Homo sapiens: one gene and its partner. The protein of the gene in region 2 purifies or fractionates together with the protein of the main gene of each other region. This does not show direct contact. Each region holds a gene or a part of one and is shown on either strand. Other genes may lie near its edges.

Region 1 (3,500 bases), on a different chromosome or scaffold from region 2:
TCATCGTGTTAGCCAGGATGGCCTTGATCTCCTGACCTCATGATCTGCCCACCTCGGCCTCCCAAAGTGCTGGGATTACAGGCATGAGCCACCGCGCCTGGCCGTATTTACAATTTTTATATTCTCTTGCTGAATTGACCCTTTTATCATTGTTTAATGACCTGTGTCTCTTACAGTTTCTGTCTTGAAATGTATTTTCTCTGCTATATGTATAGCTACAAGTCCTCTTTTTTTGTTTGTTTCCATTGGCATGGCATATCTTTGTCCATCCCTTCATTTTCAGTCTATGTATGTCTCTATAGGTAAAATGTCTTTCTTGTAGGCAACAGGTCATTGGGTCTTTTTAAAAATCCATTCAACCACTCTCTTTTGAAGAGTTTAGATTGATAAGTAAGGACTTACTCCTGTTATTTTGTTATTTCTTTTCTGGTTTTGCAGTGTTTTTCCTTTTCTTTCTTCCTTTTAGTGAAGGTGATTTTCTCTGGTGATATAATTTAATTTCTTTTTTACTTTTTGGGTATCCATTGCATGTTTTTCAATTTGAGATTACCATGAGGCTTGCAATACTATCTTATAACCCATTATTTTAAGCTGATAACAACTTAAGACTATTTGCATAAACAAACAAGCAAAAAGAAAACTAATAAAAACTCTACAGTGTAGCTTTGTCCTCCTGCTTTTTAACTTTTTGTTGTTTCTCTTTATATCTTATTGTACTATTTGTCTTGAAAATTTGTAGTTACTATTTTTGATTGGTTCATCTTTTAGTCTTTCTACTTATGAGAGTAGTTTACATACCCCAGTTACAGTGTGATAATATTCTGTGTTGTTCTATGTACCTATTATTACAAGTGAGTTTTGTGCCTTTACATGTTTTCTTATTGCGCATGAACGTCCTTTTCTTAGAGATGGAAGTACTCCCTTCAGCATTTCTTGTAGGACAGGTCTGGTGTTGATGAAATCCCTCAGCTTCTATTTGTCTGGGATGGTCTTTATTTCTCCTTCGGGTTTGATATTTTCACTGGATATACTATTCTAGGGTAAAAGTTTTTCTCCTTCAGCACTTTAAATATGTCATGCCACTCCCTGGTTCTAAAATTTCTACTGAAAAGACTGCTGCCAGACATTGGAGCTCTCTTGTATGTTATTTATTTCCTTTCTCTTGCTCCTTTTAGAATCCTTTCTTTATCCTTAACCTTTGGGAGTTTGATTATTAAATACCTCTAAGTAGTCTTCTTTGGGTTAAATCTGCTTGGTGTTCTGTAACCTTGTCCTTGGATATTGATCTCTTTAGGTTTGGGAAGCTCTCTGATATTATCCCTTTGAATAAACTTTCTACCTCTATCTATTTCTTTACCTCCTCTTTAAGGCCAATAACTTAGATTTTCCTTTTTGAGGCTGTTTTCTAGGTATTGTAGGTGTGCCTCATTCTTCTTTTTTCTGTTGTCTCCTGACTGTATTTTTAAATAGCTTGTCTTCAAGCTTGCTAATTATTTCTTCTGCTTGATCAGTTCTGCTGGTATGAGATTCTGATGCATTCTCAGTATGTCAATTGCATTTTTCAACCACAGCATTTCTGCTTGATTCTTTTTAATTATTTCAATCTCTTTATTAAATTTATCTGACAGAATTCTGAATTCCTTCTTTGTGTTATCTTGAATTTCTTTGCGTTTTCTTAACACAGCTATTTTGAATTCTGTGTCTAAAAGGTCGTATATGTTTCTCCAGGATTGGTCCCTGGTGCCTTATTTAGTTTGTTTGGTGAGAACGTTTTCCTGGATGATCTTGATGCTTATGGATGTTCATCAGTGTCAGGGTATTGAAGAGTTGTATTTATTGTAGTCTTTGCTGTCTGGGCTTTTTTGTACCTGTCCTCCGTGGGAAGGCTTTCCAGGTATTCAGAAGGATTTGGGTGTTGTGATCTAAACTGTATCTACATTAGGGAGCACCCCAAGCCCAGTAACACTGTGGTTCTAGCAGACTCTTAGAGCTACTGCTTTGGTGGTCTTGGATAAGATCCAGAAGAATTCTCTGGATTACCAGACAGAGACACTTGTTCTTTTCCTTTACTTTCTTCCAGACAGTCTCTCTCTCTCTTTGCTGGACTACCTGGAGCTGGAGGTGGGTGACACAAATACCCCTGTGGCCAATATGTTCTATCTTTTTAAGACTTCCATCCATGTATATTATAGTTAAAATGCTTATTTATGTTTAATGATAGATTTCAGATTGCAGTTAATCTGAATGTGGAACGCTATGCCTTGGTATTTGGAATCAACACCTTTATTGCCTTGGTGATTCAGACCATCATGACTGTGATTGTAGTAGATCAGAGAGGGCTCAACTTGCCAGTCAGCATTCAGGTAAGCTGCAATACTTCTGTTTTCAACTAGGTAACCTCAAAAATTTCTCAACCTTACAACAAGCAATATTTAAATTTCTTGAGTTCCTTGGTTAAGCAATTAAAAAATACATAATTCCTTCATTATCATATTATAACACACCAAGTAGGTTTTGAGCAATAATTGCAACTAGGACAACATTTACATGGATAAGGCAGGTAAGAAGTAACCTCAATGCTTAAATTTATTCTTGGAGACATTGAATGTAGCATTGCACCAGCCTCCAAACAAAGACATAGAGACAGGTCAATGAGTTTTAGTGTTTTTTTGGGTTTGTTTTGTTTTGTTTTTTACTATTGATGATAGTAACTATGATTTTAACCCAAGCAACCTGCTCTAAAGCCAAGACTCTTAGTCACCGTATTGCTTACACCTTCTTACTTGATCTTGATTTCTTACTTGATAGGAGAGTATTGTTCAACCTAAATGACCCATATTAAAAACCTGGGTCTCAGTTACCCCATAATCCAAGCAAACCAACAGTATTAGGATGTATTATCATTGACATAGATGGTCATATTTTATATGTGGCTAATTATTTGTTTTTCTCCAGTTTTTAGTTTATGGGAGCTATTTTGCAGTAATTGCTGGAATTTTCCTAATGAGAAGCATGTATATTACCTACTCAACCAAATCCCAGAAGGATGTACAGAGCCCTGCTCCAAGTGAGAATCCAGATGTGTCTCACCCAGAGGAAGAGAGTAATATCATCATGTCAACAAAACTCTAACCTCATCGCAACAAACGCAACAGTGGCTTTCAAAGTTATGCAATAATAAGGAAAGATTTTGAGATGGGTGGCATATGTTTTGCCATAACTTGACATGCTTTGCAAATCTGGATTCCAATGGACCTTTCAAAACCACAACAAAACCTCAGTTTTAGATGAGTTCTCTATGTGACCAATTTTACTGGATGCAATTGACAGGACCCGTCATCATAATTAAACAACCCATATTGGGGACCCCCTGTGACTAGTAGCAGCTGGAAAATTCTGGTTTTTATCACTTGTAAAGACATGCAGATGGCGTGGAACCAAACCATGAGAAAACTCCAGCCATCCTGGAGTTGATATTCACCATTTGTGAGGAGAAATAC
Region 2 (4,993 bases):
GCTGGGACAGTTGTGCGCATCACGCCTGGCTAATTTTTGTATTTTTCATAGAGACGGTGTTTTGCCGTGTTGGCCAGGCTGGTATCGAACTCCTGACCTCAAGTGCTCCACCTGCCTTGGCCTGCTAAAGTGCTGGGATTACAGGCCTTACAAAGCCAAGGCCTGGCCTTGTTCTTGGACATTTTCTTTCATAGAACTTTCTCTCCATGAGGGTGATGGACACTGACAGATGATGATCACACAAAAAAATTATTTAATTACATCATGATCAATGCTACAAAGGGTAAGTAAGACTAGTAAAGTATGAAGCCATCTTACGATATCTTTGTTCCCTTTCTGTAGAACCCACTCAACAATATCAATCTGCCCCTTGACTTGTCATGTCCTAGCCACAGACAAGAAGGGCAAAGCCCTTTCTCCTTCTCCCATCCCTCACCAGAAAAAAGAAAAAACAGGACAAACATCAGCCATGATGAGGTGGCGGTGACATTCAGGACTACCCCAGAAGCTGTCCAATTCTGCTTGTCTGCTTTATCCCAAGACCCATGACAATGCTGGGCAATGTGCTCTGTCACCTACAAGTTCTTCCTGTCCCTACTTGAACAGACCAACAGACCCAGCAAAGCTTTTTCTTTTCTTTTTTTTCTTTTGTCCTTTTTTTGAGATGGAGTTTCGCTCTTGTCGCACAGGCTGGGGTGCAGTGGCGTGATCTCAGCTCACTGCAACCTCTGCCTCCCGGGTTCAAGCGATTCTTCTGCCTCAGCCTCCCAAGTAGCTGAGATTACAGGCATGCGCCACCATACGTGGCTAATTTTTTGTATTTCTAGTAGAGATGGGGTTTCGCCATGTTGGCCAGGCTGGTCTCAAACTCCTGACCTCAGGTGATCTGCCCGCCTTGGCCTCCCAAAGTGTTCTAATTAGAGGTGTGAGCCACTGCGCCTGGCCCAGCAAAGCTTTTTCTGTTGAGTCTGAACTACTCCACTCCAGAGAGCAGGAACTAAGAGAGAATATTCTCTCAGCCTGAACTGAGTGCTTGACTTCCAAAGCCAATGTGAGAAACCTTCTCTATCTTCGCCCACTCCCTGTTACATTTCCCTGTGTCGATCCCCTCAGGAGTACCATCAGCAAGTCTTGGTTTCTATTTCAGTCTCACCCCCTCCTGTGCCCCTCCAGCAGTTCTCTTCCCATGTTGCCCACCTAGGACTCTGATGCAGCCCCGACTCCTGCAATTCGACCTGCATTCTTCTCCCTGCACTACCTAAGGCAGGGCATAGGCACTGCACATCCCTCTGCCCCCCTACCATGAACATCAGGACTCAGATGATGAAAGCTTTAAAGCTTTTCTTTTCTTTCTTTTTTTTTTTTTTTTTGAGATGGAGTCTTGCTCTGTCACCCAGGCTGGAGTGCAGTGGCACGATCTCTGCTCACTGCAAGCTCCGCCTCCCAGGTTCACCATTCTCCTGCCTCAGCCTCCCAAGCAGCTGGGACTACAGGGGCCCGCCACCACGCCTGGCTAATGTTTTTTGTAGTTTGTTTAGTAGAGACAGGGTTTCACTGTGTTAGCCAGGGTGGTCTCGATCTCCTGACCTCATGATCTGCCCGCCTCCGCCTCCCAAAGTGCTGGGATTACAGGCGTGAGCCACCGCACCTGGCCAAAATCTTTAAAGCTTTTCTTTACACATCACCCCTGAAGCCAGAATCATGGTGGAGGCACCAAATGGCACGCTACGGTTGTGTCAAACGAAACCCTCCATCTCTTGAGTGCCAGATTCTGTGAAGCACTTCACATGCATTTATTATTTCAATTCAACCTTTACAAAAATCCTGTAAGAAATATCTGATGATTTCTCATTTTACCAATGAAGAAACTGAAGCTCAGGCCACTCAAGTTACTTGTCCAAAGTCACCAGCTGAATAAATGCAGAGCTGAGATGTGAACTCAAAGCTGGATTTGAAACCTGTGTCCCTTCTGCTACTGCATGCGGGAATAACGATGCACTATGTGGTTGCATCTTTGGAAAAGCTCAAGGTCAGAGTCTCCAAAGGATGCTGCTCCCACCTGGTGCTTCAAAGCAGCTGCTAAGGGTAGAGGAGCTTCCTCCTCCCTTCACGCTCCTCCCTCACACTCTTCCTACCAACTCTGCTGAAAGCAACGTCATGGACGCCAGTCTTGCCCGATGATCCCACAAGCTCACCAGGATGAAGCTTTAACCATAGCTTCATCCTAAACCACTGACCAGTTTAGAAAAACTATTTGTAGTCCCAGTCTGAGATAAACAGACCTCACCACCCAATTTCCAACCTCCAAACAAAACTAGACAAATCTGGGAGCCTTAGAGTGACGAGGACTGGCTCCGAAATGATGGGATCACAGAGCTCTCATCCCACTGGGAGTTGCCTTTTCTCTGCCTGGGTAGTGGCACAGGGAGAAAAATATCTTGTGCTGACCACTGGATTTAGACATCACGTGATGCTAGGAACTGGTGACATCTAGGTTCTGAAGAGGGCTGAGAAAGTGTTCTTCCCAGTCCTCTCATTATCTTTTCTAATTCATCTGAATCATCCGGCTGCCCATGTCCCAGCCCAGCCAGCATTCCCATCCCTCCCTCCTCCTGCCGCAGAGCAAGCCCCGGAAAAAGGGTCACTGCTATTCAGTGGTTTGGGGATGGCCAGTCCTCACTGCTCTTGTGTCTGGCTGAAGCAAGCAACTAACAGATGGCAGCGATGAGATGGCAGCCAAGCCCCGCCAGCAGTAATTAAGCCGAGCCAGGCTCCTCGTCGCCACCTCCCTAGGGATGGTCTCAATTGGCCTTTGATTAGGGCAGCCAGAATGAGACCTGGTCTGACCAGGGCCTCACAGAAGCGGGTTTGTGTGGCAGAGAACAGGTCTGCCACTGTCTGTTGCCTGCAGACACTGGGAACTTTGGAGGCCTTGACAGAGCAGCCGGGGACACTGCTCTGCCCCGGTACAGTACAGCCCAACAGCTGCCCCGCCAGCCAGTGCTAACTGAGTACCCAGTGAACGGGGAGCACTGGAAAATCACAAGGGAAGGATGTTGGGCTGCTGTTCGCCAGAGGATTTTCTCCAAGGCCAGCTGCTGAATGGAGGCACCCAGGCTGCTTTCTACAAATGCAGATTCTTCTGCTGATTTGGCATCCATGGGGCGGGTAGTGGCCTGGCATTCACTAAAACCTTTTAATTTTTTTTTAACCCATGTGCACACCGATAAAACATTTTCTTTTCTTTTTTTTCTTGAGCCAGGCTGGAGTGCAGTGGCGTGAACCCAGTTCACAGCAACCTCCACCTCCTGGGTCAAGCGATCCTTCTACCTCAGCCTCCCAAATAGCTGGGACTTCAGGTGTGTGCCACTATGCCTAGCTAATTTTTGTATTTTTTGTAGAGATGGGGTTTCACCATGTTGCCCAGGCTGGTTTTGAGCTCCTAGACTCAAGCAATCCTCCTGCCTCGGCCTCCCAAAGTGCTGGGATTACAGATGTGAGTCACTGCGCCCAGCCTGATAAAACCTTTTAAAATAGCTCCAGGCTCTTAGAAATGCACTGGGCATTCAGGTCCAAAGTAAGTTATAATATTTACCAACAAGGTATAAATAATTGCACAATAATATACACTGCAAACTGGAGAAAGCTCAGAGTACCTTGGTCAACCCCATGGGGTCCACAAGGTGCCATGAGAACAGGAGAGTGAAATCACCTCCTCCTCATCTCCACTCTTTGGGGTTTCCACAAATTTTCCACCGCTGAGATTTTTTTTCCCCATTCATTTTCATTTCTCCCTCCTCTGCTGCTTTCACAAAGCTACTTAGAGAGTGGGGATGGGGAAGAGGACTATGCTAGGCCTTCAAGTCCAGTAGCTCCCATCTTCCTAAGATCCTGTGGGGATCTTAAGACGGGTATAGCTTCCCTCATTTGATAAATGAGGAAAGTGAGGCTCAGAGAAGTCAAACTTGAATGACCTGCTTGGCCACTAGGATCTCCAAACAATGACTTGGAGTCACACTGCTTATGAATATGTCATTTCAAAAAACAGGTCCCCAATTCTCAGTCCAAGAGGATGAGTCACTTACTTGTAGGTTTTGGACCTATCCAGCCAGATTCCTGAGATCACAGCCCCAAGCATTCCTGCAATGACGATCGTCAGGCCAATTCTTCCAGCATTCACTTCTTCCCCCTGGGGAAACCATAACCCCAAAGATCACCCGGCGATGGGACAAGACCCAGGACAGAGCACAGTCACCATGGGGTGAAGGAACAAAGGCAGGTAACTCAAGCTCCATCAGAGTCAATATTCAGAACATATCGGGACAAGATGGCCTAGGAGAAAATTCTAGAATAACTACTCCTCCCAACAATATAACCCTGACTGTGTGTGCATGATATTGGATGCTGGAGTGACAAGGATGAACCAAATCTGTTCTTAGAACTACTTTTAGGCAAATTTTTTAAAAAATGTAAACCTCACAGCAACTCTTCTATCTTATCTGTCATTAATTCCATTTCACAGATGGGGAATTTAAAATATATATGTTAAAATTTCCATTCTTAGGTTTTTTTGAACTATCAATGCCAAGAGGAATGGAAAGATAATAGTTATATATTTTTGAGTGCTTACTATAAGCCAGGCACCATGCCTAAGGTTTTATATCATTATCTCATTTACTCCTCGCCATTCCCCATCATAAGGTTAGGAGTCAGTCTTCTCCATTTTGCAGATGAAGAAACAGGCACAATGAAATTAACCTACTAGCCCAAGGTCACAAGGCATATGTTAAGTTCAAAGCTAGGATCTGAACTCAGGCCTTTGAACTCCAAAACTAGGACACTTAGCCATATAGTCTACCCCTTCTGCAAGTGTGAGAGCCTAGTCCTTTCAAAAGAGGGTTGCATCTCCGTATTCCTGACTCCAGGCCACTCAGTATTCCATTCCCAGCATCCAGCCCAGCCCTCGTGGGTTCTGGAAACATTTAAATTCAGA

Evidence for each region. Proteins that work in one complex are often made in the same cells at the same time.
Region 1: the proteins of FLVCR2 (region 2) and SLC19A3 fractionate together in Homo sapiens (co-fractionation; one large-scale study listed by BioGRID). This does not show direct contact.

Annotation. Positions count from the first base shown.
Region 1 is NC_000002.12:227,687,029-227,690,528, reverse strand, and holds part of SLC19A3 (thiamine transporter 2), read left to right. Parts: intron 1-2,221; coding exon 2,222-2,363; intron 2,364-2,955; coding exon 2,956-3,132; 3' UTR 3,133-3,500. UniProt on the Homo sapiens protein: Mediates high affinity thiamine uptake, probably via a proton anti-port mechanism. Has no folate transport activity. Mediates H(+)-dependent pyridoxine transport.
Region 2 is NC_000014.9:75,634,106-75,639,098, reverse strand, and holds part of FLVCR2 (choline/ethanolamine transporter FLVCR2), read right to left. Parts: intron 4,190-4,993; coding exon 4,086-4,189; intron 1-4,085. UniProt on the Homo sapiens protein: Choline uniporter that specifically mediates choline uptake at the blood-brain-barrier. Responsible for the majority of choline uptake across the blood-brain-barrier from the circulation into the brain.